2 separate regions of the Homo sapiens genome follow, and region 2 is linked to region 1. Evidence: fine-mapped expression QTL. A gene starts in region 1. The other region holds a variant in brackets. All regions are shown on one strand. Distances are between the middles of the regions. Region 1 holds the start of CRTAC1 (cartilage acidic protein 1). Region 2 holds the start of MIR3085 (microRNA 3085).

What was found.
Region 2: its variant is fine-mapped to the expression of CRTAC1 in thyroid (GTEx, PIP above 0.99). The same link has a PIP of 0.9 or more in subcutaneous fat, tibial nerve and visceral fat.

The regions. Positions count from the first base shown.
Region 1 is chr10:98,024,711-98,036,652 of GRCh38, reverse strand. CRTAC1 (cartilage acidic protein 1) reads left to right here and starts at 6,032. Exons shown (of 15, transcript NM_018058.7): 1 at 6,032-6,204. The coding sequence starts at 6,181.
Region 2 is chr10:97,869,489-97,881,430 of GRCh38, reverse strand. GOLGA7B (golgin A7 family member B) reads right to left here. Exons shown (of 5, transcript NM_001010917.3): 5 at 9,853-11,942. It overlaps CRTAC1 (cartilage acidic protein 1), which reads left to right. Exons shown (of 15, transcript NM_018058.7): 14 at 1,039-1,182. It overlaps MIR3085 (microRNA 3085), which reads left to right and starts at 5,534; the gene lies at 5,534-5,618. RefSeq lists an enhancer at 5,107-5,607. The variant C/T (reference allele first, on the strand shown) is at 5,864.

The DNA of each region.
Region 1 (11,942 bases):
CTTATGTCCCCTTTCTCTCTCTCTCTTTCTCCCCGCCCCCCTCCTCCACCCCTCCTCACACATGCACACACACACAGGCTCAATTACCTTTTCCATCTTCTTTTGTGTCAATGTCTGACTCTATGGATGACAAGCTCTCCATGCTCGGTTTAGACACTGAAAACAGGCTATAGCTACAGACACTCTTCCCACCCGACTTTGCTCCCTCTCCCGACATCCTCCCTTCCCTTTCTCTCTTCTCTTGATTCTTCCCCTCCTTTTATTTACTCCTTCCTGTTCCCCTTCCTCTTCTGTTCACTTTTCACCCATTTATCTCTCTTCCCTTAGGATGGAAACTGACGAGGGCATCCCTAGCTCAGGAGCTCCCTGGCATTTGCTGCTAGTAAATGTATGCTACCACCACCCAACTGCTGACAGGGTTTTTCTTTTCTTTTCTTTTTTAAACCATGACCATGAGCTCATGTCTGTCAGAAACCTGGCTGGGTTGGCAGCTGGATATGCCAGACCAGGAAGGGCTGGAACCCAAAACAGGACCTGTCCACCAAGGCAGGGCCAGGGTCTGGGGAGGTCCTGGGAGCTGGAGGCAGAAGTGAGGCCAGGTTGGGGGCATGTTAAAGGAAGCTGGCATGAGGCAGTTGGCAGAGGTTCAAGAGGGCAGTTGATGCCTGGAATGTGGGGCAGCAGGTGTTAAAGACTCAGTCACAGGGAAGAAAGGAAAGCATCCAGAGCCCAGAATCCTAGGCCCTGAGGTCCTGGGTCATGGGGTAGGGCAGCAGGAGGTGAGAATGGATGGAGACCCAGTGACTGGAGCTGGGGGTACCAGCAGGAGCTCTCTCAGAAGAAAAAGGTAACAGTGGGGTCCTAGGACCTGAGAAGAAAGGTAGAGCAGGACCAAGGTCAGCAACAATGATAAAGATCCAAGATGAAGCTTCCCTGCTGTTGACTTGGACTCCAGGGAGCCTGTTTATCATGAAGACTGCTGGCTGAGCATCTCAAGCAGGAGTAGAGAGCTGTGTGGTCAGCGGCCCACCATGGCTTTCCTTTTCCCATCTCCCTCCCTGCATCACATTCTTAACCAGCCCCTCAGATTGCAGAGCCACCCCCACGACAGTGTGGGAAAACCCCGTAGCTCACTGGACACATAGGCAGGTAAGTTCCTGGAACCCAAGCCATTTTGGCACAGGTTAACATGATAAGCAGACACCTGCTTGCATCGTTACCTCCAGGCTTCCCCCTGCCCCACAGCCTCGAAAGTTTCTAACCAGACTTCCCCAGGATTCCATCATGTCCTCCTTCTTCCAGCATCCCTTTCCTGGGGCTGCTCTGCCTGCAGAGTTTCCCTGCAGCATGCGCTCACAGCTCAAGGTCTTCTGAACAAACTCTCTGGCCATCTGGAAGACTCCTTTCTGCATCTGTGATGGCTCTGGCTCTGGCCCTGACTGAACCATCCCCCAGGGTTTGTGGCTTCTCTAAAAGAGTTCCTGTCCAACTTTACCCCTAACCTACCTCCCCTTGAAAGTCCATCCTATGCATCTGCCTCTTACAAGCCACAAGTGCATCTGAAACCCAACGGCCATGTGATAAATGTGTACTCCTTGGGAAAAAGGGACGACCCCTCCATACGACTTGGTTTGAGAAGGGGTTATTTCCTCATACCCCCTTTAGCTCCTCATTTCTTTCACAGTTTGTGGTTTCCCATTTTCAACTATTGCTGTTTTTCCACCCCCTTACAAAAAGATTCATTTCTTTTGAGACAACCAAGCCTAAAATACACAATCCCTTATCTACAATTCCAAATCCCCAAATCTCTGAAAGTCAAAAGGATTTTTGTTTTGCAAGTTTGATGCCAAGACTCATCTGGTAGCAAAATCTGACCTAAACTGATGTGAAGTTACTTTATCCTCACACCTGCTTAGTGTAAACTTCATATATTTCATTGCAGAAATATTAATGTGTCTGATTTCAATATGCTGCTCAAAGCTTCACTGAGAATGTTTATGTATGGTGCCTTTCTGAATTCTAAAATGCCTCTGGCCTCAAGGGCTTCAGATAAGGGTGTGAGGAACTGTACCAGCCTCTCTGTTCTCCTGTGACAGAACTCTTGGGACAGAAGCATCTCTAAGATCTGGTGTCTTGACTTCTCACCCGGAGAGAGAGAAGATAGCCAAGTAATCTTCTAATGTAGAGAGAGAATTAACAAAGTCATTTGTCAATGAAAGGACATGGGGTCTGGAGGTTGTCTTCAGTGTTTCCTACAGTTTTTGTCCTGTCCTTAACTTGTTGCATGACTGTTAGCAACTTGCGTAAAGTCCAACCTCTCTGATCCTGGACTTTAGAAGAAAACTAGCTCCTGAGAACTCCTGCTCCAGTGATGTTGATGATGACTAACACACACAATACATCTTGAGTTTTTAGAAAATGAAGTACTGTACAGCTTTAATAGTATTTTTAAGTAAATAGGTTTAATTGGAATAACTCAGCAAATATCTAATGTGTGTTCACTCTGTGCCCAGTTTCATGCTGGGTTCTGTGAGGTAGTCAACTGCAAGGTACAAACTCTGGACTTCAAGGGGCTCATATTCTGATAGGGAGGCCAAGTATCACTGAGTGAAAAAAAGCTAATGTGCATCACAGGTGATAAGATGGTGTAGACCTGCAGGAGAGCTGAAAACTGCTGGCCAGGGCAGTTTTGGAAGGTGGCGCAGGAAGGAAGACTTGGTTTGGGTATGAACAGATGAGAAAACAATTTAAGCACGTTCCCCAGGTAAGAATGAAGAAGTCTGTGGGGGAACACTCTGAAGAAAAAACAACTTCACTGGGGTCAAAGGACTGGAGCCTGAACAAGATGCATGGGGTAAGGGTGTGCTGAAAATGTGTGTATTAGTCAGCTCAGACTGCCATAGCCAATACCACAGACGTGGAGCTTAACCACAGAAGTTAATGTTCTCACAGTTCTGGAGCCTGGAAGTCCCAGATCAAGGTGCTGGCAGGTCTGGTTTCTGCAGAGGCCCTGCTCCTGGCTTGCAGATGGCCTCCTCCTGTTACTCAGGCAGGCTTTCTCCTGAGGATGCACAGAGAGAAATGGGAGATCTCTGGTATCTCTCTCTCTTCTTACGAGGACACTAGTCCTATTGAATTAGGGTCCACCCTTATGATCTCATTTTGCCTTAATTGCCCCTTTAAAGGCCTTATCTCCAAATGCAGTCACACTAAGGGTTAGGGCTTCACTATGTGAATTTGGTCCGGAGAGGCACAATTCAGTCTATAACCGTGTGCATGTGCCTCAAGAAAGCTGTGTTTGGGCAATGTGGGAGGACAAGAGGTCTCTCACGGGATTGGGGGTGGGGAAGGGCTGGAGCTCTGAGCAGACACTGACATGAACTGAGCAAATGGACATCGAGGACATCAGAGAAATGAGAAATTTTCCAACCAGGACTGCCTGGCCCACTGGGCTAAACCCTCACAAGTTCAAGTGCTGAAGCCAGATTGTATTCCCTGGAGCACTTCCTGGCTGGAACATCTCCATCATTTCCTGCATTTTTCTGTCCTTCCCTAGCACCTTTGGTCTGTTGTAACCTTACCTGGCTAGCTGCAGGAAAGTGTGAGATTATTACAGAGTTATTTTGCACAGAGCACCTATTCACATCTGGTTGGCTAATGCTGATAATTACCGTGCTGGTTACTAAATCTGTCGGGTCTGGGTGAGGTGAGGCGCTACAGCTGGGGCTGCTGTGCACAGCTTCACCGGAGAAGAGAGAGGTGAGAACAAAAACCAAGAAAGGTGTGCTCAGATGTTTGGGATTGAGTGAAACTGGTTAATTACCAGTCACTTGCTGTCTCCCTGAGTTGGAGTTTCTGGCTAAGGAATGCTCATAGATCAGACATAATATGACAACCTGCAACTTATTTCCACATTAAGAGGGTGGCGGGGACCAAGATGCAGAGAAAGTGTGGAGACAGTCTCTCAGGTGCCAGAGCCTTGGCCAGATGACTCAGATGCCCTCAGAACAAGGTGGTGGCATGTTCCAGCAGGGTGCAGAGCCAACTGGACTCCTTATGCAGAGAGCTGGGGATCAGATATGGCCTTGGGGGCAGAGTCTATTTGCCGATAGATGAAGGTTCTTAATCAGGGCCCTAGATTAAGTTTTAATGATCCACGAACCCTCCTAAAGTTGCATGTCAACATGTGTGTATGTGAGTGAGCATTTTTATAAGCAACAGATCCATAACATTTATGAGATTCTTGAAAGGTTCTAAAGGGTCTGTGATCCCCAAAAGGAGGGTGATTATAAACTACTGTCCTAGACCCCTGAAGAAACAGGTTGACATTGGACCGAGCCCCAAGAGACTCAGGGTTCCTAATGATCCTGAAAGTATACTCAAGGTGTGTGTGTGTGTGTGTGTGTGTGTGTGTGTGTGTGTGTGTGTAAATGTGTGTGTTTGTATATTTTTCTAGAAAAATGATTCAGTAATTTTTGCCAGATTTTCAAAGGGGCCCACAACCTTACAGGCTTGATGGGGGCTCAAAAAGCCAGAAAGTTTGTCTGTGCCTAGCTATTTCTTTTCAGAGGAAGATCACAGAGACCTGAAAACAGAGCCCAGACTAGGTCCTGGTAGTTCTGCTCAAAATCTGTGGATAACAGGGGCCAGAGGCTGGATGTGTGGCCCTCTATAAAAGAACACATTCAAATCATTCTAAGAGTCAAGGGCCCAGAAGCCAGACTAGTGGGTGATGGTCACAAAAGCGTCAACGGATGGGAAAACAGTCCTAGCTCCTTCCCTCTCCGATGGTGGATTCCCAAGTCTTTCTCTTCTGTGGCCCCTTTACCTGGCTTTCAGAAACCCAAAGACCTCACTCATGGAAGCTCAGAATTCATTCAATAAACACTGAGCGCCTACTATGTGCCAGGCTCTATTCTAGGCGTAAAATAAAGGATTTGCCTTCAGAGTGTGACCCACCAAGGCCAGTTTCCTGCCTGAACAGGGGTATTTTGAGCATTGCTGATCAAGTGTGTTTTTCTGGCGCTTAGCACCCCCATTCCCCTGGTCCAGAGAGGCAGAAACCATCCCCCCACCACCACCAAGGCAGCGGGTTGGGGGCGAGGAGAGGCGGGCAGTACCTGTGATCAAAGCGGTGAGGGAGGCTAGTAGGACGCAGGCGGCAGGAGCGGGTGGGCCAGGCCCGACTCGGCCACTGCTGGGGTAGGGACTAGGTGGGATGGGGTGGGGGCACTGCTGGTGGGGACGGGGTGGGGTAGAAGCGGCGCTGCCCGCAGCCGCCTGGGCCTCTGCGCGCCTGATCTCCGAGCTGCGCTCGCCCGCTCCCCGCCTGCGGGGGCCGTCGCGGAGCCCTGCTCTCCATACTGAGCAGTCCCCGGGAGGTGCTCGGACACGTCCCCAGGCTGGATAAAGATCGGCTCGGCTCTAGCTCCGTAGTCGAAATCTCGCCATCAGCGCGGCTCGCTCGGCCGCTTTGGCCCGGCCCGGCGACGCCAGATCGCTATCCTGGGGGGAAATGGGAAGGCAGTGCAGCCGCTCCCGCCTCCACCCTCGGTCCTGCGCGCAGGGGTGGCCGCGGGGTCCTGGGGCTCGCCGCCCTCCCCTCCCCCTTCGCGTTCCTTCCCTGCGCTGCCTCCCGAGGGACCCTCGCTTCCCTCCGGCCTGGGGCCCCCAGCGCCCAGCCAGGCGCCCTCTCCCCTCCTCGCCAGGCCTCGCTGCCGCCTGAAGGTTACGCGACGCAGTGGCGGGGCGCGGGGGGCGCCCGCCCTCGCCGCCGCCTTCGCCGCCGCCCACCCCAGTGGCCGCCGCGCCGCGCCGGGCCAGCCTGGCTGCCGGCTGCTGCCACCGCAATCCCGGCTCCTAAATCAGCGCGGGGAGGCGCTCCCTCCCCACGCCCGGCTCTCCGGGCTCTCGGGGCCGCGATTGGCCGCGCCGGCGCCCCCCACCCCGGGCCCCCGGCTCCAGCTGCCGCGCCATTGGCTGCGGGCCTCCGCCAGCCTTTACATAAGACCGGGCGCGCTCGAGTGGAGTTGTATAAAGCGAGCGCGCGGCGTCGGGGCGGGAGGCTCGAGGCCAGCCCGGGACCGGGGCTGGGAGCAAGCAGGCGGCGGCGCCGGCGGCAGAGGCGGCAGCGAGCGCCCGCTTCCCACGCCCCTAGGCGGCGGGGCCGAGAGCGGGAGGATGGCTCCGAGCGCTGACCCCGGCGTGAGTATCTGCACCGGTGCCCCCCACCCTAAGGCGGAGAAAGTTTCTCCAGCTCTGCGCGCCCCCCCGGATCCGCCCGCAAGGGTGGCGGGGACGCCGCCCGGGAACCCGGGAAGACTGGGATCGCGAAGGCGGCGGCTTCGCTCCTAACTTGCTGGGAGGCGCTGGACTCGATTGGCGCGCGGAGCCTCCCCCGCGGGCTGGGGGTGAGGCGGCGGCCGGGTTGGAGGTGGCGGAGAGGTGGGAGCTGATGTGTGGGGGCGACAGCCAGCAGCTGGCAGAGAAAGTGTTGGGGGCGCACTGGAGGTCAGCTGTCAGGGGAGGGGGCCTCTGGGGCCTGGAGGGGGCGGAGCGGGTGAGGAGGGATGTGCCGGGCTATCGGGAGAGTCTCCCAGTCAGCCAGGCTGAGACCCGGGCCTGGGAAGCCACTGGCCTCGGCCGAGTGCCTACGCTTCCAGGCTGGGGAAGAGCCCCGCGGGCTGGCTCTTCCTCCCCTGGGAAGCCGAGTTCCCGGGCACAGCGCTGGGTGGCAGAGAGCTCCGGGAGCCAGCCCCGCGCGCGGCGTAGCTGCTAGCCGCCTTATGCTGGACGAGGTGTGGTCTTCCCTTCAGGCTGCCTGAGGCAAGCCGGCTTCAGGCATTCCAGGGGAACCCTGAGTCCTCCTCGACCCCGTGGGGGCACTTGGAGGCTTTGATGGGGCAGCCAGGCCGGGCTTGGGGGCATGCCCAGCAATGCAGCGCGCTTCTTTGCAGTACAGTAGTTGGGAGCCCTGGTTAGTCCCGCTTCTGCAGAAAGCAACTCAAGAATCCAAAGTCATCCCAGCCTGGATGGAAGCCTCCCAGAGTGGCGGGGAAATTCTCCTAGGGTTGAGAGCTGGGGGGGCTTCCTCCAGGAATGACTAATGAATATTGCTGCTGCTGCCGCCGCCGCCGCCGCCGCCGCCGCCGCCGCCGCCGCTGCTGCTGCTGGTGGGTGCACCCAGTGTGGCTTCTGCACATCCCAGGAGATGCTTCCGTTCTCCTGACAGGACACATTCTTGAGTTGCACTTGAGGTGTCTTCTGGGATGGGTGCAGGACTTTCCACGTGAAGCCAAGTGGAAAAGAAGGGAAGAGGGTCCCAGGACAGGGGACAGTTCTATAGTGTTTTCTTGAGTCAGGGGAGAACTCATGTGGGAAGAGATAAGCGATTGACGGAGATTTGGAACCCAGACGACTTGGGGCTGGAGATGTCCAAGACTGAATTAGAGCTCATTGAGAGTCACAGAGTACCTCACCCTCAGCCATGGGGGAGAGGTGGAGGCTGGAAAAGTGGGAACATGGTGGCTGTTCCAGCATGGTTCTTGAGAAAATGTTCTCTCTCTCTCTCTGACTTGGTTAAGAACATCCTTCTGGCAGTAGGTCCTAAAGTCAATTTAAGAGGTAATGAAGGGAGTTGAGGGTCTTGATGATGGCACAGAGGACCACAATTAGAACATTTCCATTTCCGGTGGGTACTAATGGACTCTGGAAAAGGTCGAAACGGTGTGTAGGGAGTCTGGGGAACCTGCTCTGTGGCTGCTCATTTGAGCCTGAATCCTCCACCTTATCCCATCCCTGAATGTAGGTGGATGTTCAAACTCCTAGGGTACCTGCTTCAGCCTGGAGATATTTTATGGGTGCTATCAATCTATATCCCAACCCCCAGCTCCATCGTTGTCTGCTGCAGTCAACATTTTTCTGCTGCATTTCCCAAGACCTTCTCTCCACTGGGGATTTGTGCAGCGAAATACCTGCTTGTTGCTCTTTCTTCCCTTCTCCATCTGGGCTGCACCTGGTGTTCTGAACCCTGGTGTTTATTCCTTGGTACCTTGATGTTTGGTTAAGACGTCCTATGGCTGCGCAGGGGTGCCCCTGTAAATCTGTGGACCAATGGCCTGTGTAATTCTAGGGAGTGCAATAGACTTCTATAGAAAGAATACCACCAACCGGGAAGGCAGTCCTACTAAACAGCTTGTGACAGCCTCTCATGCTCAAGCGCTCCCTTGCTTCCGTGCTGAGGCGGTGGAAGCCTAAAGGTGGAGCAGACTCCTTGGTGTCCAGTAGGGGGCGCCAAAGGTACCTGGCTCAGGACCACTGACTTTCTCACTTCTTGCCCTTTACTGGCTGTAGCAACTTAATGCTTTAAGGCAGCTCAGGCTACAGCCTTCAACCACCACCATCGTACTTGGAATCCTTCTACCACATGCTTCCTGGGCTTCAGGTGGTCCTGTGACCTCGGGTGCTATGGGGCAGGTGCAAGCACAACATTCCAAGGAGACAGAGCTGGTACACAGCCCCACCCTCTCTCGGGGATCATTCCTTTGTGCTTGGTGCCGCTGTGTTCTTTGAACTCTTTAAGGGTTCATGGAGTTCCAGAACATTAGAGCCAGAAGCAAGGAGCCTTGGAGAGCATCTCATCCAACCCCATTCCATCCCAACACTCACATGCACATTTAATTTACAGATGAGAAAACTGAAGCTGGATAAAGCCAAGGTCACATGGCTATTTGGTGGAAGACATGGAACTAGGCCCTAGGATTCCCACTGCTCGATTCAGAGCTGTTTCCACTCCAGCGGCCTGCTTCCTCTTCACTATAAAGATGGACATACTTTCTCTATACAGTAGGCACTCATAGTTATTGACTGACCAGGCTTTGGTAAATTAATACATCCCATACAGTTGGGGAGATTCTATTTTGAATCTGTTTTTCAGAGTGAGGAGGTGAGGAGAAAATACAGTTCTTGTCATGGACATACACAGGTCATAGAAATTCCTAATTATTCTTTCCCTGCCTCTACAATCTCGTCTCATTATTCCAAGTGGTGTTTTAAGCAAAAGCCATGCAAGTCCAGGTTTCAGTCTGTGCATTTAGGAGTCAGAAGTGCCGAGTCCCTCACTGTGGTCTTGGAACCCAGGTCTGGAGCGCCAAGGAATGTTGGCGTGGGGTCTCTCTGCTTGCAGTCACACCACTGCTGGTGAGACCTCCCAGATTCAGATTATAGATGGATTGGAGAGTTTCCAAAGAGTATTTGCCTATTTCCCCCACCCTTGCTGCTCCCAGCTCAAGGTCAGAGTGCTAGGACATTCTATTTTTGCCAAATCCTTATGTTTGGACTTCTTCGGTGACCTGCAAGATACTACCATTTCCATTGCCCTTTCTTCTGTTCCGAGAGCCTGGCTGTCGACATCTGAGCTGGGCTCTGGGAAACAGGTTTGCTGAGTGGCCTGTGGGCGGCCCCCTTTGTTCTCTTTTTTTTTTTTTTGAGACGGAGTCTCGCTCTGTCGCCCAGGCTGGAGTGCAGTGGCGCAATCTCGGCTCACTGCAAGCTCCGCCTCCCGGGTTCACGCCATTCTCCTGCCTCAGCCTCCCGAGTAGCTGGGACTACAGGGGCCCGCCACTACGCCCGGCTAACTTTTTGTATTTTTAGTAGAGACGGGGTTTCACTGTGGTCTCAATCTCCTGACCTCGTGATCTGCCCGCCTCGGCCTCCCAAAGTGCTGGGATTACAGGCGTGAGCCACCGCGCCCGGCCCCCTTTTGTTATTATCTCCCCACCTGGCTTCTTTGCACACTGGATGGACTTCCTCCTGGTTCTCCTTGGAGCCTCAGCAGACTCGGAAGCCTACCCTCGTAAGAAACCCACTGCTGCCAAGCCAGAATTCTGAGAGGCGGAATCCTCTTCTCTCCCTAAGACTCACGAAAGGGATGCTTGTTGCCAGGGAAGATGCTTGAGTCCCCTCCTCTCCCTCATGCTCACAGAAGATGAAGTTGGAGCTTCATCTTCAGCGGGAGGAGGGAGGTGCAGGATCACGTGGACCACCGGAGAGGAAAAGCCCCTCTCTTTAAACTGGAGTCTTAAGAGGCTATGCTTGAGATCTCACCAGCTCCTAGCTTTACCTGGTGAAATGAGCCTGCATTCTCAAGACTTGTTCTGGTTCTGGATAAGACCAGAGGAATATACTTACATACATTGTGGTTATAGTACAAGCTCTCTGGACTTTTGTTTGAATGCGGGAGTGGGTAGAGAGCTTGAGAAGTGGCATTAGACTATGAGAAACAGGAAATTGTCCAGTGGGGCTTTTATGAGCCCCACCAGATGGCTGACCCTTCCCCCTCTCATTGTAATGGTAAGGACACAGGCTTAGAATCTGGTCTCCGCTTGCTGGCTTAGAGACCTTAAACAAACCACTTAACCTCTGCAAGCCTCAGTTTCCTTCTCTGCTAAATGATGAGGCTGACAACCATGTGATGAGGGTAGGGGAGCGAAGCTGGAGGGAGACAGTCTTTAGTATTCCTCTGCCCTTGGTTAGAGGTAAAGAGGTATTCAGTTGGAAGGGGATATTATTGCTGAATCACTGGGAACCCCCGAGTCTTCTTTTTCCCAGTGAGTGAGCCTGAGTGCCCAGGTTTGCACATCAGCCTCTGCTCACAGCAATATCTGGGCTGATGGGCAAGGCCTTCTTGGCAGGGCTCCCTCCTTGCCTCTTTCCCTGCCCCACCTCAGGGTTTTCACTTTGGGGTTCTGCCATGCTTGGGGAAAAGAAATTTTATGGGTCCCAGGATAATTCTGAATGTGATGGAGGGCCCTGAGCTATTGATTCCTAAGGAAGGATCTTTCTGCTGGGAGAAGCCTTCCTTGGAGCCTAGTGATTTAAGAGTGCTGACAAATTCGTGCTCACCGAGCCTCCTGCAGGCTGCAGATACAGGCTTCCAGGCCAGCCTGGGCTCTGCTAGGGATTTCTGGAGAGCCTGGCTGGTTGCTTAGGGGACATAAACCTGTGAACTTTCCTTAGGAGAAAGTATGAAATCAATTGGTTCATTATCACACCAAACACACCCCAGACCATTTAGGGCATTTAAGAAATAAGAAGCAGCAAAGGACTGAGAGGTTGTCTTTGAAAAGTGTGCAGAAAGGTGTGAAAGGGTTGGGGGAAAGGAAGGGAGAGGAAGACCGTTTTTCCCCTGAACCACTCATGATTTTTACCTTATCGAAATCCTTGAATGGTGACTAGAGGGGTTATTTTGTTCCCCCTCCCAGATATTTGGCAATGTCTGTAGACACTTTTTCTTGTTACAACTGGGGAATGGGGTGCTACTAGTATCCACTAGGTAGAGGCCAGGGATGCTGCTGAACATCCTACAGTGCACAGAACACGTCTCACAGCAAGGAATTATCTGGCCCAAAATGTCATTAACACCAAGATTGAGAAACCCGGGACTGGAGCATTGCAGCACAGAATCACAGCACATTAGAGGTGGGAGTGATTTTAGAAGTACTCTCATCCAATTCTCCCATTTCACAGCCGAGGGCACTGAGATCCAGAGAGGAGAGGGAAGCAGCCAGGATCACACTGCAAGCAAGTGACAGAGCTGGTCTGCAATTCAGATCTGCTCTCTCCTGAGACCGTTTTACCCAGATTCCCCCAGAGTTGTTGTGAAAATTAAATGTGAGCTGTGAAAACAAAAATAAATAGAAAATTATAGAGACTATATTAATATTTCTATTATTAAGAATTGGGAGTTTGTATAGTTGTATTTCTGGCTATGCCACTGACTCATTGTGCAATATTGGACAAATCATTCTCCCACCCCCATGCCTCTCTATGAGTGTGTGTGTGTGTGTGTGTGTGTGTGGTGGAGAGGTGGTCTTAGAGCAAAAAAAAAAAAAAAAAAAAAAAAAAAAGGATAATATAATCATTCTCTTTAGAGAAAGGTCCAA
Region 2 (11,942 bases), 160 kb after region 1:
AGGTGCTCCCTGGAGACTGTTCCAGAGAGAGTGGTCAGGGAGGGCCTCGGGGGGAAGACTCTGAGCTGAGACCTGAAGGATGAGAAGGATCTAGGCCCAGAAAGAGTTGAGGGAAGGGCAGGAGTGAAAAGCGGGAGACAGGACAAAGGCTTTGTGTGTTGAAGGAGCAGGAGGGATGCCAGTATGGCCTGGAGATGATGGAGAGTCCATGAGGCCCCTGTAGGGAGTCTGAATTTTGCTCTTAGGAGCCTTAGAAGCTAAACTGGGGAGTGACATGATGTGATTCACATTTTTAAAGGCTCCCTCCAGCTGCTGAATTGCAGAGTGGATTGGAGGGAAGAGGGGAAGCCAGGTATTCTGTGAGGAGGCAGCTGCAGAAATCCAGGCAAGAGGTCACGATGGCAGGAAATTGGGTGGTGGCAGAGGAATGAGAAAGAGGTGACAGAGAGAGGTGGACTGGTGGACTGCGGGGCAGAGTGGACAGGCTCTGCTGTGAAATTGCACAGGGGGCAAGAAAGACGGAGAAATCAGGGGTCGCTCTGATTTCCCCTTGAGCAGCTGATTGATGATGGGGGTGTTGATTGAGCTAGAGAAGACAGAACAGAGGGCCAGAATATGGGCAGGGCAGGGCAGAATCTGGAGTTCTATTTTGGACATATTAAGCATGAGGTGCATCTTAGACATCCAAGTGGAGCTGTCAAGTAGGTCATGGGTTATTGTATTCGTGAGTCTGGAGCCACGGGGAGAGGTTGTGACTGGAGATAGAACTTTCGGAATCATCCATGCATGAAGAGATCACCTAGAACGATTGTAGTAGACAGAAGAGAGGACCCAGGACCAAGCCTGAGTGCCCACCCCCTGCCCCCAGCATGTAGAGACCAAGTACAGGAGGAGCCAGCCAAGGGAACTGAAGCAGGGAAACTGAGGCTCTGCGAGGAAGGCACATTCCCAAAGCCAGACAGTGTATAGGCAGGCAGAGCCTGGGCTGGTACTTGCTGCCCCACACCTTCATGGTGAGTGGTTCCCCTCGCCTTGCAGACACCAATGAATGCATCCAGTTCCCATTCGTGTGCCCTCGAGACAAGCCCGTATGTGTCAACACCTATGGAAGCTACAGGTGCCGGACCAACAAGAAGTGCAGTCGGGGCTACGAGCCCAACGAGGATGGCACAGCCTGCGTGGGTGAGTGGGGCCCCAGCCATAGGCCAGTAGCAAAAGGATGTTGCTTTCCACTGGGGAGCTCTGGGTAGGCCCCAGATCAAGGTCCCCAGCCCCTTCCTTCTCCTGGCTGGATAGAGTCTCCTTTGACCCATATTGGGTCTCCAGGGAAGACCATGACAGAGGCTTGGAGAAGCCCCATCACTTCTACCATCACCTGAAGGGCCAGGGGATGCTGTGTCCTGGCCTGAGGCTATCATTCTTCTTACTTTTCCTAAAACAACTGTTCCTACCTTGAGGTCAGCCCGTATTTTCATAGCTGGGATATAAACTAACTCCTACTACTCATCTTTGGCTGAATTTCTAAACTGGTAATTTCTTCTTCCCAAACTCCTTCCTCCACCCCCACCCCGTCCCCACCCCCTTTCTCTTTTTCCCATTTTCTGTCTCCCCGCCGCATCGTTTTTGCAGCTCAAGTGGCCTTTTTAGGTGGGTATTCTTCAGCCGCCTCTAGAATCTCTGAGCCTCTCTCTCGGGCCTCATATCTTTCTCTAGGCCTTGGACTTTGCCTTCAGTTATATGCACTTTAAATCCCATCAATAAAGGAAAAAACAAAACAAAACTAACAGCCTTTGTGGAAAACTAAATCTCTCTCCTGCTGCTTGTCTCTCTCTCCACGCCCAGTAGGTTCTGCTGTGTGCTCCCTCTGAATGGACAACAGGGGTGGCCATCTTTGAAAAGGGAAGGTTGGGCGATACTGACACAACCTTAGTTGTTTGTGAAGACTTTCTTTGCATGTTTTCTGAGAAAACAGAAAGGAAAGTCTCCAATACCCCATCCAGTCTCCCTCACTCCTTCAGAAGAATCAAGATAGTCTTGTATCCTCCAGTGTCTCGTGAGCTCATTATTTTGCCCTTAACAAAGATGGCTCCCAGGTGGTTGCTTGCCGGTTGATCCGATAATGTACCATGTGCCTGCTGGTTTGGCCTGTGCTGTTTCTGCTTTTTGCCCCTGACTTCCTGTGCTAGAGAAAGCCTTATTGGTGTTGGTGGTGGTGATGGGAGGGAAAAGGGTGGTCCTTTGGGACTCTTGATAAAAATGTTATCATTTGAACTTGCTAAGCCTTCCAGCCTCTTTTCTGAAGAAATTATGCCAATAAACTCTCTACTAGATATTAGTGCCAAACTGATGATAAAAAGGGTCTGGGGCAAGTAGAACTGATTGGAATGCTGAATTAGGAGCAGCCCTTCCACCATGAGATGCTTTGAAAGCAGATCATAACACAAAGCAGGTGTCACCCTCAGGCACCAGCAGTGGTTTGGTTGCGTACAACAATGTTCACATTTGGGGGACCAGGGTTTGGGCCAAGTGAAGGATGTGTGATGAGTGAGGGGCAGAAATGGAGTGTGTACTCTAGGCCTTTTACCTGCAGGAAGTCACTTCTCCATGCTGTGCCTCAGTTTCCCTAATGTAGATGACAAGAGAGTTGGGCTGGTATATCCCTAAGGGCCTTTCCTTTCTAAGACTCCTCAATGTCTGGCTGGACATAGGCCTGGCTCATCTCAGGTTACTCTGATTTCTAGAAAGAACCTTGCTACTTGGTCTCTGCAATCTCCTTGGAAAATAGAATGCTCCTGTAGCCAGAACACTCTTTGGAAATGATGTAACGCCACAGAATATGCTCACGACCAGCCTCAGTAGTGAAGGCTTGTTATAAAACATAGATCTATTCTTCATGGGGAAAAAAAGTCATCCCAGGATATAATAAAATTACACTTAAGAATGCAGCAACCCTTTTAAAAACATATTCAACAAAAAAAAAGCCCCTGCCATTTTCTGATATCATGGTAATACTCCTAATAAATCACAAAATATGAATTCCTTGTAGCTAGTGCTGTTTTTACACTTAGAACAGAAGCATAAATGAAAAGTTTTTAAATTAAAACAGCTACAATTTCCCTGAAAAGCAGACACCAACTTAAAAATCATTCCACTTCTAGAAAGCCCATTCCTGTGTATTGACATAGAACTAAAGATCTGAAAGGGCTCCAGAGATGAGGCTCAGAGAGCTGAAGTGTTCAAGGTCACTGTGCCCAAGGTCATGGAGCCCACTGCTCCCCAGGCCAGGGCTGGAGCCCTTTCCCACCACACCATCTTGTCAGAGGGTAACAGGCAGCTCTGTCACTGTTCAGACTATTCCCTAGTCCTTCTGGAAGCTGCTGCCTTTTAAAAAATGAACAAAGTGGATCTAAGATAGTGAGATAAGTAAAACCCAAAACCCATGGAGGAATGGTTCCAAATGCAGTGGTAAATGACAAGATAACAGAGCCCATTGACTGTCCATACACAACAGCACAAGAAATAAGGGACAAGACAACTACAGAGATGGCCTGCCAAGGACATCAGGGGGTTCAGGGTGACAGCAGACTTCAGATGATGCCTTATAAGTGACAACCATGAATGCCTTCACAATGAGTTTTATATAACAGGGTATATCTGTGTCATGTGATCCTGTTGGGTGAGTGGGGTCCAGTGAGTTGCAAAGAGGAGTTCTAAGTTCCCACAGCTGATAAGAGCACCACTGCAGCACTCAGACTCCAGGATAAGGCTTCCATTTGATTCATTCATGAGTTCAACAGATACTGATTGAGCACCTACAATGTGCCAAATATTTGGTTAGGCTCTAGGCGTACAATGGTAAATGAAGGTAACAATGGTAAGTAAAAGTAATATGTGTTGATCCCCTACTACTATGTGCAGGTACTGAGCTAGGCTCTAGGCATACAATGGTAAGTGAAAGCAATATTTGTTGAGCCCCTACTGTGTGCCCAGTACTGAGCTAGGCTCTAGGCATACAATGGTAAGTGAAAGTAATATTTGTTGAGCACCTATTATGTGCCAGGTACTGAGCTACGCTCTAGGTATGTAATGGTAAGTGAAGGTAACATTGTTGCCACCCCTACGCTGCCTTCCCTCCAGCCAGATAGAGGAGCCAAGTGCATGGGATGGGAGTGGGACACCAAGGGGCTTTCTAAAAAGTTGAGCTGAATTCTCAGGTTGCTATACCAGAAAGCAAGCTCTCTGCATTCATTCATTTACATATTCATTCAGCAAGCATTTATTGAGAATATCCTGTATGACAAGCACTAGGTTCCTCCCATGAGGAATGTGATAGAGACCCTCTAATGAGGTGGACAAGTCCCCTGCCCCCAAGATGCTTGTGTTGCAAGAGATACAAGGCTGAAAGATACAGAGGACAGGTGGATAGTGAACCCACTCAACATTACCTACCCCCTTACCAAAAAAAAAAAAAAAAAAAAAAAAAAACAGAGCCTCCTCATTGAGCTAGCAGTACAGGCTTTTTGAACAGGTGCCTCAAATTCAATGCATCTACTGGTCTGTGCTATACCAGCCACAGATTTGCGGGTGCAAAGCCACCCCCAAGCTACCCAGGCTCAGCATTCCCATTCCCCTCTTTCTTCTAATCCCTTTCTCTGAGACCCGTGGGAGCCCAAACCGTTCCGTCCCCTCCTGCACACAGATAAGTCTGTCTTTTCCCTGTCCCTTAGCCCCACCTAGGCTCCTGACATCTTTGTTGCCTTATGCTACACTTTAATTTGTAACAAAAATAACAAATGCCTTTAGGGGCAGTCAAGTAATGAAATGGACCCGGAAGGGATTATGCAAATGGAGGAGCTGGTGCCCCACCTGCCTGCACCAGGCAGCCACAACTCACTCCAGTGGGAAGGTGGGCCAGTGCTGCCACAAAAATGCTCCCCATTTTTCAACAAAAAAGAAATAATAAGAATAATACCATTTTTATTCTGCTCAAGAATACTCCCTCTTCACAGGCACATACCCCTTAAAATGACAATAATAGCTTACATTTAGTGGGCTTGGCGTGTCTGGGTTGAATCTAAACTCTTTACAATAATCAACTCGTTTAATCCTCATAATAATCTCAAGAGGAAGGTATTGTAATTATCCCACGTTTACAGATAAGCTAAATGGTTTGTGCAGGGTCATACAGCCCAGACAGACGAAGGCAGGACTGGATCCCAGGAGTCTGGCTGTCAGCTGGCACTCTCAACTACCACTCCCTTCTTCATTTGGGATGGTGAATTGGTTTAAGCAAAAGCCACAGTCACTCATGCTGCCCAGGATCAAGAGCAGGATTGGGAGGGGAAAAATGGAGCCCCTGGAGGCCTAGTGATCTGAAATAGTCCTCCCCACGGTCACGTTCAAGTCTGCAAGAAGAGGTGGCAGTGCTTGCTAATGTCGAGAGTCCCCTCGCCAGGCGGGCTCAGCCAACCTTCACTGAGGCAGAATGGTAAACCATCCACTAGGCCTCTTCAAGCATCTACACGGTTGCCAACCCTACTCTGGGAAGGTGCCATTCTGAGGGCCAGGAGTTTGATTATGTGTCACTCTGGCTGCTATGGCCCCCTCCCAGGGTCTGGGTATCACACCCAGGCCAGTGCCACTGGACCTCGGCCGAAGCAGGAACTCCGCTCCAGACTCCAAGAGCCCCGTGTAGACAGGAAGATGAGCACTTCATTTTTGCAGGGAGCCAGCCAAGTTCTTCCAACAGATTCCAGGCTGAACCTCCACCCAGACTTCCAGCCCAGAAGGCAAACCGAGCCCCTCCCTGCCTCCCTGTGCCCAGGGCCAGTCTTCTCTGAGGCCAGAACCCCAGCCACAGGGG[C/T]CAGGAACATGCCAGAAGTTGCTGTTGTGTCTGTAGCAACAGGCATATCCTGGAAGGAAGGCAAGAGAACATGGGCTGGTTAACACCACAGATGACGCCAGCCTCTCCCACGGTGGCTTGTCCTCTAAGGAACTACTGTTGACAGTGAAGTGGTCAAAAAATAGGCCACCAGAGGGAAAATGAGACGCAAGAGAGAAGAAAAACATCCTCCAGGAAAGCAGCTAACATTTATGCAATGCCTGCCATATGCCAAGAACTTTACATCCATGTCTCCATGAATACTCACACCCATCCCAGAATATAAATGTTATGAGTCTATTTTATTACCAGAGAAACTGAGACTCAGAAACAGTAAATTACACAAAGTCACATAGCTAGCTAAAGTGGCAAGAGCTGTAATTCAACCTCATGACTAGCTCCAAAGCCTGGGTTCTTAAGCCTTATGCTGTGCGATCTCTAGGTAACTGACACTGGGGAAGTTATTTAACCAGTTGTTCATGTGATGTACAGTGACTGAACGCCTACTGTGTGCTGGATGTTGTTCTAGTGGCTTGGGATATACATCTGTGAACAACACTGGCAAAGGTCCCTGCCCTAGCAAGACGTGGCAGGCACTAAACAATACCCAGAATAAGGAAAGTCTGTAGCATGTTGGAGCATGATACGTGCTATGGAGGGCTGGAGAAGAGTAACATCAAGGCCATCCGGGAAGGCCCGGATGGAGGTGGAATGCCATTTTAAATAGCGGCGGGGGCAGGGGGGCTCCCTGAGAAAGAGGCATTGAGCAAAGACTTAAAGTAGGTAAGGTGTCTTTGAACCTCAGTTTTCCCATCTGCAAGATGGGGATAATACCTCACAGAGTTATTATATTAGACTTGACATGGTGCCTGGCACATAGAAAGCCCCCAACAAATTAGAGATACTATTATTAAGTAGCCACGTTCAGGATGGAGCCCCGGGCCCGTTCAGTGCCAAAGCTCCTGTGCTTCCCGGTACACCCTGCTGCCACCCAGGACACCTGTGGTGGGAGAGATGGGCAGGACGGGGCCACCTCTGGAGAACTGACAGATTCACCAGAAAAAGATGGCAAATGGCCATAAGGTGCAGAGCCAACCTTCCTGGGGCCTGGGCTGTGCTATGTTCTGCTGAATTCTCATGCAGTGCCATTCCCAGAAAGAATAGTCATAAAACAAAGTGAACTGAGCTAGGCGGGCATGGCATGGACTGGGCCATACAGAGCAGAGGTCACCAGGAGCTAGTGAACTGGCCTGGGAATTTGGCCCTCAACAATCACAGAATCCTAGAGCTTTAAATCCAGGAACACCTGAGAAGTCATCTAGTCCTCTTCCCTCCTTTTCAGACGTGGAAACCAAGGCCCAAAAAGGAGCTGCAACTTTCCCAAGGCATCTGCACCCCCGTCTGGTCCTTTTTCCTGCCGGGTTGCCGGCTGCTCCTCAAAAGAGCTCAGCTCCAGGCTGCTCCCAGCACCCTTCTCCAGAAAGCTCCAGGTATTCCAGAAGCCCAAGTGTATGAACAAGATCAGGAATAAGAGAGGCAGGGCTTATCCTTCCCACTTTGCTGACATGGAAACTGAGTCAGGATACGTGCCCATCAAGTAACAGAAGAACCATACTTGGTCCTTAGAACTCAGCTGGGATTAAATACAGATCTGAATGGGGGTCCCGAGTGCAGAGAGGAGCCTGTTCAGCTGTGAGGAGGGAGGCAGGGTCAGGAGAAGGGTGCGGCAGATGGAGAATCTGTATCACCCGTTCCCAGAACGTCCCGCCCAGAACCTCATGCCCTCAGCCTGCCTGCCAGCAGGAAAGCAGTCTGGGGCCAGAATAATTCCCCTAAAGCTAGCTGGTTCTCCTTCTTCATGGCCAGCCCCAGAGCAGCCAGGAAGGATCTCATCCCCTAGAGTCATTTAATGCACCCTCCCCACAAATCTAAGGGCTAACTTCCCTCCCTCCACCCCAGACCTGGCTGTAGAGCTCCTGGAACAGGAAAAAAGCACATCCTCTTTCCCCAACTGCTTATGGAGACCATGGCAGAAGGACAAGTTTAGGCCAAAGGAAGGAAAGTGAGCCAAACATACACCCTCTCTGCAGTTCAGATCCCCAGACTCAAGGTTTAGAGCCCTCGAAGGCTGACACAGAAGAAAGAGGGAGAAGGAAGCCTGGGGCTGCCCTCGTGTCACCCAGTCATTGGAAAGTCTCAGTGCCTCCTCCCACTGCAGAAGGTGTCTCACATGTGCCAAAATGCCATGTTCGTTCTTAGAGCTGTGCACAAATCCTATGGCCCTCCCCTCTCCCTTCCTTTCAACTGTCCTTAAAATTTTCCCTTCACACTGAAACTCTGGGATCAAATGGACTTGAAATCCAGACCCTCCACCCAGGCATTTGGAAGTGGCCTTAAGAAGTTGTTTCATCTCTGAGCCTCAGTTTCTTCATCCACAAAATAGAGGCAGTGATAAAATCCTCATAGAGTTGTTGTGAGGCTTCCTCGAGCCTATAAGGTACTTGCTGCAGTGCCTGACTGATGAAATGCAGATATTGTCATAAAATCTGTGCCAGGACGTTTAACCTCCTGGTTTCACTTCCAGCAATGCCTGACTTTAAAACAATCCATAAGCCATTAGCTGGGGCAATATTAGACCTATAAGGATTCTTCCCAACAAGACACATCCATCACTCAGAGTTACAAATGCGGAGTTCATCTGGGGACTGGGATAGCACGGCATCTTCCCTTTGAAGAGCTCCAGCCCTATATTTAGATCTGCACTGGGGAGCCCAGGGGCGATCGGTACCCATCCATTCACCTGCCTCTCCAGGGTCTGCGAGCATCCATCTCAAGCCAGGCAGGCCTCTCGCTCATCTCTGATCTATCAGTCATCTCTCTATACCCATCTTCTCTGTATCCATCCACTTATCCAGCCAGCCAGCCATCCAGCCAGTGATTCACTCACAGTAATTCACTCTCTAGGGCCTGAGGTCCAGATCTCTCAGGTAAAGAATTCAGCACCAGAAGGATTTTCCCCACCTCAAAATGGTGTTTGGGGAGTGTCAGGCAGGGCCGACTGGGGTGGGACACACGCTTCCTCCCCTCCTCTCCCAGGATAGGTAGAGGTCATGAGCAGAGCCACAATGTCACAGCTAGGGCAACATCACTGAGAGCTGCTGCCCAGCTCAGGGGGTAGCCTGGGGTCACTGCATCCATCCTTTAATTGAGTTATAAGGTGACCACTTGCAGGTGAATTGTATCCTTCAGTGACCACTGCCTATCTGCATGGTACTGAGCTGCTTCTCAGTGGCACCTTGCCCTAGGGGTCTGCAGATGACACATCTGTATAGGCCTGCCTCTTCCTGCCAACCTGAGATGGGCAGCATCTTCCATTCACCTGGCCAGGGCCAGGCCCTGAAACAAGCACTCAGGATAGGGGGAGGTGGGGGTGGGGGTGGGGAGTGAGTAAGACAGGCTCCCTGCCCTTGAGAAGTGTACTGATTAATTGTGGGCAGCAGGGAAAAGGACCCTCGCAATCTCTGAGGTCTTGTAAGCTGTGTGTAAGCTTGTGTGTAACATTGCCCCCTTCTTGGGGCCTCACTCAGCACTGTTCTCAGGTGATAGCTGGTTCCCAATCACTTTTCCATTACAGAAATCGATAACTTGAATTACTCCAAAATAACTAGTACCTTCATGCCCCTGCAAAGCTAATTTTTCTGGGGATGCATTTGCCCACGAGTTTCTCTCTGGTCTGGAATCTGTCTTCTATCTTTATGAGTCAATCCAGGTAGAACACTCTCTCTTCTCCCACGTCTCACTCTTGTGGCAGAGTGAGAGTGGGATCTGGAGTCAGAGACTTAGGTTCAAGTCTTTGCTCTGACACTTACTAGCCCTTGTCAAGCTACCTAACCACCTAGAACGTCAGTTTCCTCATCTGTAAAATAAGATTTCAACACCCCAGTGTTCGAGAATTAAATGGAATAATAATGTACATGAATGTTCCTGGCATTTATTCGGGAATCAGTGAACCCTTGGATAAATATCTGTTTATTCTATGCCAGAATCTGAAGCCTGCTATAAATCTACATCATGAGGCCATCGTATAACGAGGTCCTAGTATCACTTCTGCAATAACAATATCTTACATTGGAGAAACAGATGATTATTTATAAATATACACATTCTCATAATGACAAAGGTGAGACTCAGGAAAGTTAAGTGAATTGCTGGGGGTGGGAAAGGGGGCAGCTGGCACAGCCCTCTGACTCTCTTCACAGTTTCCCACTTCCTCCATTGTCCCTGATTCAAAACCCGACGCAGCTCCAGGATCCTGCATGCGAAGTTCTGCTGTCCAGCAGATGCTGAAATGACAGGCCCTTTGAACATCCTCTTGGAGGAAGAGTTGTGAGCTTGGTGCAGGCTGCCCTTGGCACTGCCAGGGGAATAAATCCTCCTAGAAGTCGCCCGAGAAGGCTCATGCGGAAACCTCCGAAGGCTGGGCTCTGAAAGGAAGGAAAGAAACCGACATTACCAAGCATCTCTTTCATGCCAAGCACATTCATGGCCAGTTTCTTACTGACTCCTCAAAACCAATTGTTCTTAACCTTTTTAGGGGGTTGCATACCCCTTTGAGAATCTGCTGAAAGCTGTAGATGCTCTCCTCAGATAACGGCACATAATATGCACCTGAATGCAGTCGGGTCGAGGTTAAGAACTCCTGGTGTGAACCTGGGCTGTTTTCAGATTTTCTTAGGCATCAGGGACCTTCCCTTTTAGAGGGCCCACCCACAGCAGAGCAGACATTACATTTTCACACACACACACACACACACACGTAACATAGAGTTGCAGTTGTCTGTTTGGCATATGTGTTACATTTCCAGATATTTAACAAAACGTTAATTTCAAGTGTGTCCTTTCTTTTCCTATTTTGTAGCCAACAGGCTTTTCTGGTGAATTTTATTGAAATATATCACCAGTACAGACAAATACACAGCTCTTAAGTATACAGCTCAGTGAATTCTCATGAAGTGAGCACCCCGTGTAACTGGCACTCTGATCAAGAAACAGAACATCCTGAGCTCCCAGAAGCCCCCCAGGTCCCCATCCATTCGCTACCCCCGACCCAGGGTAATCTTGATCCTGACTCCCAATCAAAGGCGAGTTTGGCCTGTCTTTCAGTTTCATATAAGGGGAATCACATGGTGCATATGCATTTTTGTGTCTGGCTGCTTCTGTGGAACCATAAACTTCTTATTCAGGTCTCAGGCATTTTCAGAGGTGTATTAAAGGCTTATAGGCTATAGGTACTGTCAAAACCAGGGATTCTCAGCCTTACCTTCACATTAAAATCACCAGGGAAACTCTTTAAAATCCTGATGCCCAAGCTGTCCCCCAAAACAATTAAATCAGAATCTCTGAGGATAGGATCAGGCATTGGTGATTTTTCATGCTTCCAGTTGACATCCATTGCCACCAAGGTTGAACGCCTCGGGTCTAAACAACTCTGTGAGATATTAGTCTCCCTATTTAACAACTGGGGAATCTGAGGCTCCAAGAGTCTTCATGTGTCAGTGTCATGAAGCCAGAGCTCAAATTCAGATCTGATGTGGAGTGGTGTTTGCCTTGCCTTATCCCTGGGTGAATGGTAAAGCCCAAACCAGGTGGTGATGCCTCCTGTCTGGGCCCCCCTCATTGTGAGTCCTTCTAGAGGTGTGGAGAGGGATGTGGAGTTTCCCAGGCTCGACAGCCCAGGGGCTGGCCCTAGGGAGAAAGTCACCAGACTCCACCTTTGCCCCACACCTCTGGAAGCCACAGAAAAGTCCCTGCGGGTGGCAGTGGCTGCCAACCGGGGAGCCGTGGGGGACGTGTCACAACAGCCATAGTTCTTTCTGTCTCCACCTTTGATTCCCCGAGTGCAGTGCATAATCCTGCCACTCAGTGGCACCTCGAGCTTCTGTAAACCCTGTGGTTTCACACACACCCGCCCTGTGGCCAAAGGAAGGAAGCCAGACAGCAGGGTGCTGGCGCAGGGAGAGGAGCATGTGCAGCAGGAGCTTCCTGAGGCATGCCTGAGTGG